2 linked regions of the Homo sapiens genome follow. The protein of the gene in region 1 interacts with the protein of each later gene in a biochemical or structural test. Each region holds a gene or a part of one and is shown on either strand. Other genes may lie near its edges.

The links.
Region 2: the proteins of SPDEF (region 1) and CDK11A form a complex in vitro, tested with the Homo sapiens proteins (one study listed by BioGRID).

Annotation. Positions count from the first base shown.
Region 1 is NC_000006.12:34,549,730-34,553,329, reverse strand, and holds part of SPDEF (SAM pointed domain-containing Ets transcription factor), read left to right. Parts: exon of another isoform or gene 1-912; coding exon of another isoform or gene 913-1,099; intron 1,100-3,600. UniProt on the Homo sapiens protein: May function as an androgen-independent transactivator of the prostate-specific antigen (PSA) promoter. Binds to 5'-GGAT-3' DNA sequences. May play a role in the regulation of the prostate gland and/or prostate cancer development.
Region 2 is NC_000001.11:1,722,587-1,726,693, forward strand, and holds the start of CDK11A (cyclin-dependent kinase 11A), read right to left. Parts: upstream 1,772-4,107; 5' UTR 1,672-1,771; intron 246-1,671; 5' UTR 233-245; coding exon 122-232; intron 1-121. UniProt on the Homo sapiens protein: Appears to play multiple roles in cell cycle progression, cytokinesis and apoptosis. The p110 isoforms have been suggested to be involved in pre-mRNA splicing, potentially by phosphorylating the splicing protein SFRS7.

The sequences.
Region 1 (3,600 bases):
GCCCTGGGCTCTTCCTGACATTTAATGCCAAGCTCCTTCTCCTGGCTAGTTTGCATGTTTTCAGCCTGGGAGGTGCCCCCTGCCAGATTCTGCTCTCCCACCTCTCAGCAGCCGGGGTTGGGGGTGGGTAGAAAGGGGCCTCCAGACTTGGGGAGGGAGAGGCTCATCCTTCCTCCCCAGCCAGGGACCTTAGTGTGACTCTGCTGGGGGTCGGATGGGACCGGGACCTCCCCAGGATTATGACGGCGCACCACCAGGATAAAGACCCCCCTCCTTCTCCCTCTAGCTCTGGCACAGGGGAGACGTGGCTGGAGGGACTGCCCAGCCCGGGGCTCCAGCGCCTGAGACTGGTTGCGGGGCAAGGCCCAGGCCTCTCTGCTCCTGGGGTAGCAAGTTGCTTTGAGGGCTGCTGGGACCTAGCTCCTCCTGCCCCACCCTACCCTCTGTGCCAGGACAAAAGGGGGATGTGTCTCTGCTGACACTTCACAGGTGGGAACCGGTCCTGATAACCCCTTAATAACCCACTCCCACCCATCTCAACCTTGTTTGAAGCAATTTCTGTTCTTAGCCTGTCAGGACAGTTCTTTCTGGACTTTTCTCATCTGTGATGTTGGAGTCCTTCACTTTGTCCTAACACCCCTCTCCAAGCCTGGAGGTGTGCTCCAGGGCCTGAGGATCAGGGCGCAGGAATGTTTTTTCCCTTCAGCCCATCAAGATTTTACAGACCAACAACCAGGTGTGTGGAGGGCCTCTGCCTTCCCTGGCCTGTGCTGGGTCTGGAGGGGCCGCAGAAACACGGCAGATGGAGACAGCAGTCACCACTGTGGACACACACCTCTCGGGAGACAGTGAAGCCTTCTCACATCGCTGTCCTGCCTGGTGACTTCAAAATCCAGACACACAGCTGTCTTTATGAGTCCCTGTTTCACTGCTGAAGAGGCTGAGGCCAAGAGGATCGGCCAAGGGGCCTCAGGCAGGAGCAGCAGAGCTCCGGTGACATCCGTGTGTTCTCATGCCCTCAACGACCCTGCTGGGCAGGGCTGTGGGGAGCAAGAGACCCAGGAAACCTCACGACCCCTGTCCTGTGGCAAGCTGGGAGGTACGGCGTATGCGGGGCTGGAGGAGGGTAGGGAAGAGGGAAGGTACTGTGGCCGGCCCTTCAAGGAGTGTACCGGCGATTTGGGGGTGAGGACGAGACTGTGCCAGAGAGGGGCAGCCATGTGACCCGGGCTGCATCATGGCAAAGCGGGGATGTGCAGGTGGTGGGGGTATGGCAGCCTTGGTGTGGCTAAGAGGCCTGACGGGGGCACTGAGAAGTGAAATGTATTTATATACACATGGGCTCAACCAGGGCTGAAGGAAGACGTGAATGGCAATTTCTGGAAAGCCCTGAAGGTTGAGCGGAATTGTAGTTGCTATGGTGGGAAACTGGGTTCTGTCCCCGCCCCGTCAGCATGACTCACTGCAAGCCCCAGGTTTGTCTGGGCTGGGGTCCCTGCTGGCTGGAGGAGGCGGGGAGGCACTGCTGCTGGGGTGGGAGCCAGGCCTGATGGGCAGCTGGTGAGGTGCAGGACAGCCTGAAGCTGGCTCTGCTTCTTCAGAAGGGTGGGCTGAGTCTTTCAGAGCCTCCAGACATCAACTCCAGGGACAGCCACACCCCTCATCCTGCCAAAAGTGTCAGCTGTAAATGGAGTATGCCTTTGCTTACAAGGGAGCCCCAGGTGTCCACCTCTGCGTCCCCACCATCCTTCTTTAAGTCCCCAAAGCCAGGCTGATGGCAAGATGAGGGTCATGGATCGTAAAATCCAGGCAGTGCCAGGGCTAACAAAGTCCTCAGAGATGACCTGGCCTACAGAGCAGGAGACTGAGGGCTGGAGGGACCAGGGACTCACCCAGGGTCTCTCCTATGGAGGGAACAGGGCAGGGTGTCACCTGCACCTCCTGAAGTGGAGGTCTTCGTTCTTTCCAGTCCACATCCCCTTTTGGAGTAAACTCAGCCACGATGGTCCACTTGGGGCTGCGGTGGGCCTCTGTACCTCCAGGCTGCGGGCACCTGTGCTACCCACACCCCACTAAGGCAACTGCTGTGGGGCTGGGTTGGCAGGTGGCCTGAGCAGAGGCAAAGGGGATGGTCAACAGGGGCAACCTTAGGAGCTAGAAGATGCCGGGTCTGCCAGCACCAGCAGAAAGGAGGGTGGAGCCGAGTCTTGAGTTCGAGTCCCTGCTCACTCACGCATGGACAGGTGCCCCGTAGCAGGTCACAGCGCCCTTGTCCGTCAAGTGGGAATAATGCTGGCTGCCCCAGCTGGGAGGGCCCGGCAAAGCAGTTTATTCAGTTTGACCTTCCTCCTGTCCCAGAAAGCGCTGGAAGTAGTGCCAGTGAGGGTGTGTGTGGACACCCAGGCTGCCCATGCAGCAGGGCACAGAGGAGGCTTCACTGATGCAATGTGTTCCTGCTGCCCGTGGGAACTGTGGGAAGAGAAAAACCACTGGGTTCCCCTGGCGCTCCACTTTGGCTTCCAGTGCCCCGTCTTCCTGCTACGTGGCCCCGCCCCCAGCTTCCACCTGCCTCCCGCCCCACAAAGCCTCACCCACTCCCCTGTACTTCCCCCAACAGACCCCAGCTCCTGGGCCCACTAGCTGGCTCCCCAAGGTGAAACTCACACAGATCAGGGCTCCTGAAGAAGTTGTTAGGGGGACAGTTGGCCTGGACAGTTTTGTGCCCAGAGGAGGTGGGGAAAGCCCGGAGATCTAGAAGAAACCCACCTCGTCTACTCATGCTGAGTCCAAGACAGCAAGATCTCTCTCACTCAGTCACCTCCCTGCTCTCTTCTTCTGCCCTTGGAGACCCTGGGGAAGCAGGTGCTTGGAGATGGCCACAATGGGGTGCTTGAGAGAGGGCAGGAGCTGCTGGCCCGAGGTGGCAGCCTGGGCCCCCTTCCTGGGCAGCGGGGTGGTCTGTCCAGCGGGCAGAAGTGGTGCTCTGGGCAGTGAATGGAGGGCCGTAAGGAAGGGGTCTGGCACTTCTCTTGGGTCCAGCTAGTTTGAAGAGCAGTTTGAAGGGTGAGGTTGCAGCAAGGTCCTCCCTGTGGAAGGGTTGGAGGAGCAGAGAAGGGGTGGGAGGAACAGCAGGGCAAGAGAGAGGCTGGGGCCCCAAGGGGATGGGGCAGGGCAGGGGTCAGGGTGTTTGGAGAAGCCAGACATGCTACTGCGGCTGGGCCTGGTCATGGCTTTGGCTGGGACTTCCTGAGGCCTGGGTAGCCCAGCTTTTCTCCAAGGTGCTGACCAGGGCAGGCCCATGTGGCCCCTGCCCACTCTGCATGGCTCCTGGCCAAGACCTGGCCTCACCTCCACAGCCCCTGACTCCAGCCCATTTAAGGGGACCCAGGGACTTGGATGGATGGAGGGAGGGGCTGACAGACAGCTCAGTAGGCCACATGGGAAAGCCAGAGGAGGTCTGTTCCCCATCAGACCTCTTCCTCCTGCAGTGAGGCCGGCTGGGGGCTGAGCAGCAGGGCCAGAGTGGCCATCTCTGTCACTCCCTCAGTGCTCTTCTCAATGGGGACTAAAGCTGGGGTCTTGGGCTCTGGGCGGGCTGGC
Region 2 (4,107 bases), on another chromosome or scaffold:
CCTGCGACATTTGGAAGTACAAAAGAACTTCACCGAAGAAGCGTTGTTCTAATGGAAAAATGAGGGCAAAGAAATTAAATCTCCTTTAAGAAAACCACTTACTTAAAAAAATATGGCTTACATTTTTTAAGCGTTTTATCTCTGCTTTCTCCTCTTGTTCCTTCCTTCGTTTCTTTTCCTGAAGAATTTCATCTAAAGTTTTCACTTTCCAAGAGTCCTTTTCATCACCCATTTGAGTTAAAACACTGCAAAAAGAAAAATAATTCAGCCTACATCAGGACACAGCAAGCTATGGTGCTGAACACTTGAACCTAGTCACTTTTGAGGGATTCAGAATAAATCCTCATTAAGAATAAGAAGTTGTGCCCGGCGCAGTGGCTCAAGACGGTAACCCTAGCACTTTGGGAGGCCGAGGCGAGCAGATCGCTGGAGTTCCGGAGTTCAACACCAGCCCGGGCAACATGGCAAAACCTCGTCTCTACAAAAAATACAAAAGTTAGCCCAGTGTGGTGGCGCGTGCCTGTATTCCTAGCTACAGGAAGGAGGCTGCTAGAGGCAGGAGGATCACTTGAATCAGAGAGGTCAAGGCTGCAATGAGCCAAGACTGCGCCACTGCACTCCAGCCTAGATAACAAAGTAAGACTTGGTTAAAAAAAAAAAAAAAAAAAGGTAAGCTCTAGGCTGAGGCGGGTGGATCACAAGGTCGGGAGGTCAAGACCAGCCTGGCCAACACGGCGAAAACCCTGTCTCCACTAAAAATACAAAACTTAGCTGGGCGTGGTGGCGGGTGCCTGTAATCCCAGCTACTCGGGAGGCCGAGGCAGCAGAATCGCTTGAATCCGAAAGGCGGAGGTTCCGGTGAGCCGAGGTCGCGTCACTGCACTCCAGCAAGACCCCGTCTCAAAAAAAAAAAAAAAAAAAAAAAAAAAAAAAAAAACAAGAATGATAAGTTGTAAGCCAGGCAAGGTGGCGAGCGCCTGTAGTCCCATATACTCTGCAAGCTGAGATGGGAGACCGATTGAGCCCAGGAGTTCCAGGCTGAAGTGCGCTTGTGAACAGCCACTGCGCTGCAGCATGGGCGACAAAAAAGAGTGATGGGTTCTGAAAAATGACCGCTTGAAATCAAGTCTCGTTTCTGTCATTCTTGTATGGTCTTGGGTAACGTAATTCACCTCAGTTCAGTCTTCCGTACAACCAGAATAACAACACCTACGTGATAGTATCGATCGCGGATTAAAGATCATCCGTTTAAAGGCTCTTAACTCAGGACCTGCCACTCATCAAACACTGCTTTTACTGTCAGAATCTGCTAGAAAGACCGCTTGGACTACGTGAAGCCACTAGCACACTGGACAGCTGCACCTTGAGACCGGGGAGATGCTCCGAGATGTGCTCGCGAACAAGGCCACCTGACCCGGGCACTGGGCTATTTCCTCGGGTTCAGTCCCGCACACTTGAGGTTCAGCCTGGCAGACGTTGGCTCCAGACAGCGTTTGGACCCGCCGCCTCCACCACCCAAAGTTCCGTGCGGGATGAGACTGTCCGCGGAAGCGAGGGTGTCGCTCGCCCCCGGGCCCGGGTCCGCCCCGCTCCGAGGCCTGCTCGGAAGAAAGACCTCGGTGCGCAGTTCTCGTCGCGCTCCCACACCTGGTCCGCCCAGTCGGAACTCACCCCTACGGGGCCGCGGCCGGTCCCTGAGCCTGAGAAGAAACAGCAACCGGCGCTCGCCAGAAGTATCCTCACTTCCTGTGTTGACGCCTAATGATGATATAATAGCCGACCTCTGGCCCAGAACTCAAGACGACAGGGGCTCGCTCTGTGCGGCACTTCCTGTGTCTGCGCGGGATGATGACGCATAAAACAGCGCTTGCTCAGGTCCAGGACTCCAAAAGAAACTGCGCCGTGAGCTGCACTTCCGACTTCGGCGCGGGCCGGGGCGCCGAGCAGAGCGACGCCGACTTTTGGAGCAGTTTGCGCCTGCGCGGAACGCGTGGCCGGCTTCCGGAATCCTACCGGGACTTTTCCGGTAGCGAAGCCCGCGCCTGTGCCAAGGCTTGCGAGCAGAATGCCTTCGCGATGGACGCCCGCATTCCACCCCCTTGACCGCTGGGACCCCTAGTGGCGGGTGGGTGGAGCGCGCTCCATTTACCTGCTGGTTACCTCGTGAGGCGCCTCAGGTCTGTGTGTCTTGTAAAGGCCGATCTCGGAATTTAACTCTGAACCTTACTCAGAAACAAAGCAGGGAGAGCTCTTACGATGTGATTTTATTTTATTTATTCATGTATTTACTTTTGAGTCGGAGCCTTGCTCTGCCGCCCAGGTTGGAGTGCAGTGGCGTGGTCTTGGCTCACTGCAGCCTCCTCCCGGGTTCAAGGAATTTTCCTGCCTCAGCCTCCCGAGTAGCTGGAACCACAGGCCCGCGCCACCACGCCCGGCTAATTTTTATATTTTTGGTAGAGACGAGGTTTCGCCATATTGGCCAGGCTGGTCTCGAACTCCTGACCTCAAGTGATCCGCCTGCTTCGTCCTCCTAAAGTGCTGGGATTACAGGCGTGAGCCACCGCGCCGGGCCTTTTACAATGTGATTTTGAAGCTGACACTGGCAGTGGGTCCTCAAAGTGCAGACTCACTGGGTATGGTGCTTCCCCCAACTCCCAGGGCCCCACTCCAAACCCATGGATTCAGAGCATTGCAGGAGAAGAGGATAAAACGAGCAATTAATTCCCTTTCCATATGTCAGGTTTTCCTCTTGCCTTGAAAAGTCACAGAAAAATGCTTTAGACATCTGAATCTCAGGAAACAAACAATGGAAGATAAACATCCGCATTTACTGGGCCTGAAATGGGAAAATGAAAGATGTGGCAAGAAACTGACAAGGGCCCAAGAAGGGCGATGGGTATCGGAATTCTTTTCATCCCGGAATGAAATGCTGCTTGCTTTGTGTACCCAAGCTCTTTTTTTATTTTTATTTTTTTGAGACGGAGTCTCGCTCTGTTGCCCAGGCTGGAGTGCAGTGGCGCGATCTCGGGTCACTGGAAGCTCCGCCACCCGGATTCACGCCATTCTCCCGCCTCCACTCCATTCGCCCGCATTAGGCTCCTGAGTACCTGTGACTACAGGCGCCTGCCACCATGCCCGGCTAATTTTTTTTTTATTTTCGGTAGAGACGGGGTTTTACCGTGTTAGCCAGGATGGTCTCAATCTCCTGACCTCGTGATCAGCCTGCCTCTGCCTCCCAAAGTGCTGGGATTACAGGCGTGAGCCACCGCGCCTGGCCTCCCCCAAGCTCTTAATGTTGCTTCCTGAGTTCTTGGTAACTGGGGAAATCTCCCTATTTTTTTATTTTTATTTTTTTTTGAGACGGAGTCTTGCTCTGTCGCCCAGGCTGGAGTGCAGTGGCGCAATCTCGGCTCACTGCAAGCCCCACCTCCCGGGTTCAACGCCATTATCCTGCGAGCCTCAGCCTGCCGAGTAGCTGGGACTACAGGCACCCGCCACCGCGCCTGGCTAATTTTTTGTATTTTTTTTAGTAGAGACGGGGTTTCACTGTGTTCGCCAGGATGGTCTCGATCTCCTTACCTTGTGATTCGCCCGCCTTGGCCTCCCAGAGTGCTGGGATTACAGGCGTGAGCCACTGCGCCTAGCTATTTTTATTTTTTCTGATAGGGAGACTCGCTCTGGCCCAGGCTGGAGGGCAGTGGCGGGATCTCCGCTCATTGCAAGCTCCGCCTCCTGGGTTCACGCCATTCTCCCGCCTCCACTCCATTCTCCCATCTTAGGCTCCAGAGTAGCTGGGCCACCATGCCCGGCTAATTTTTTGTATTTTTAGTTGAGACCGGGTTTCACTGTGTTAGCCAGGATGGTCTTGATCTCGTGACCTCGTGATCTGCCTGCCTTGGCCTCCCAAAGTGCTGGGATTACAGGCGTGAGCCACAGCACCCTGCCCTTTTTTTTGAGAAATAAGTCTCACTGTGTCACCCAGGCTGGAGTAGAGTGACACAATTTTGGGTAACTGCAGCTTCCACCTCCCAGGTTCAAGTGATTCTCCTGCCTCAGCCTCCCGAGTAGCTGGGACTACAGGCGCCCACCACTACGCCCGGCTAATTT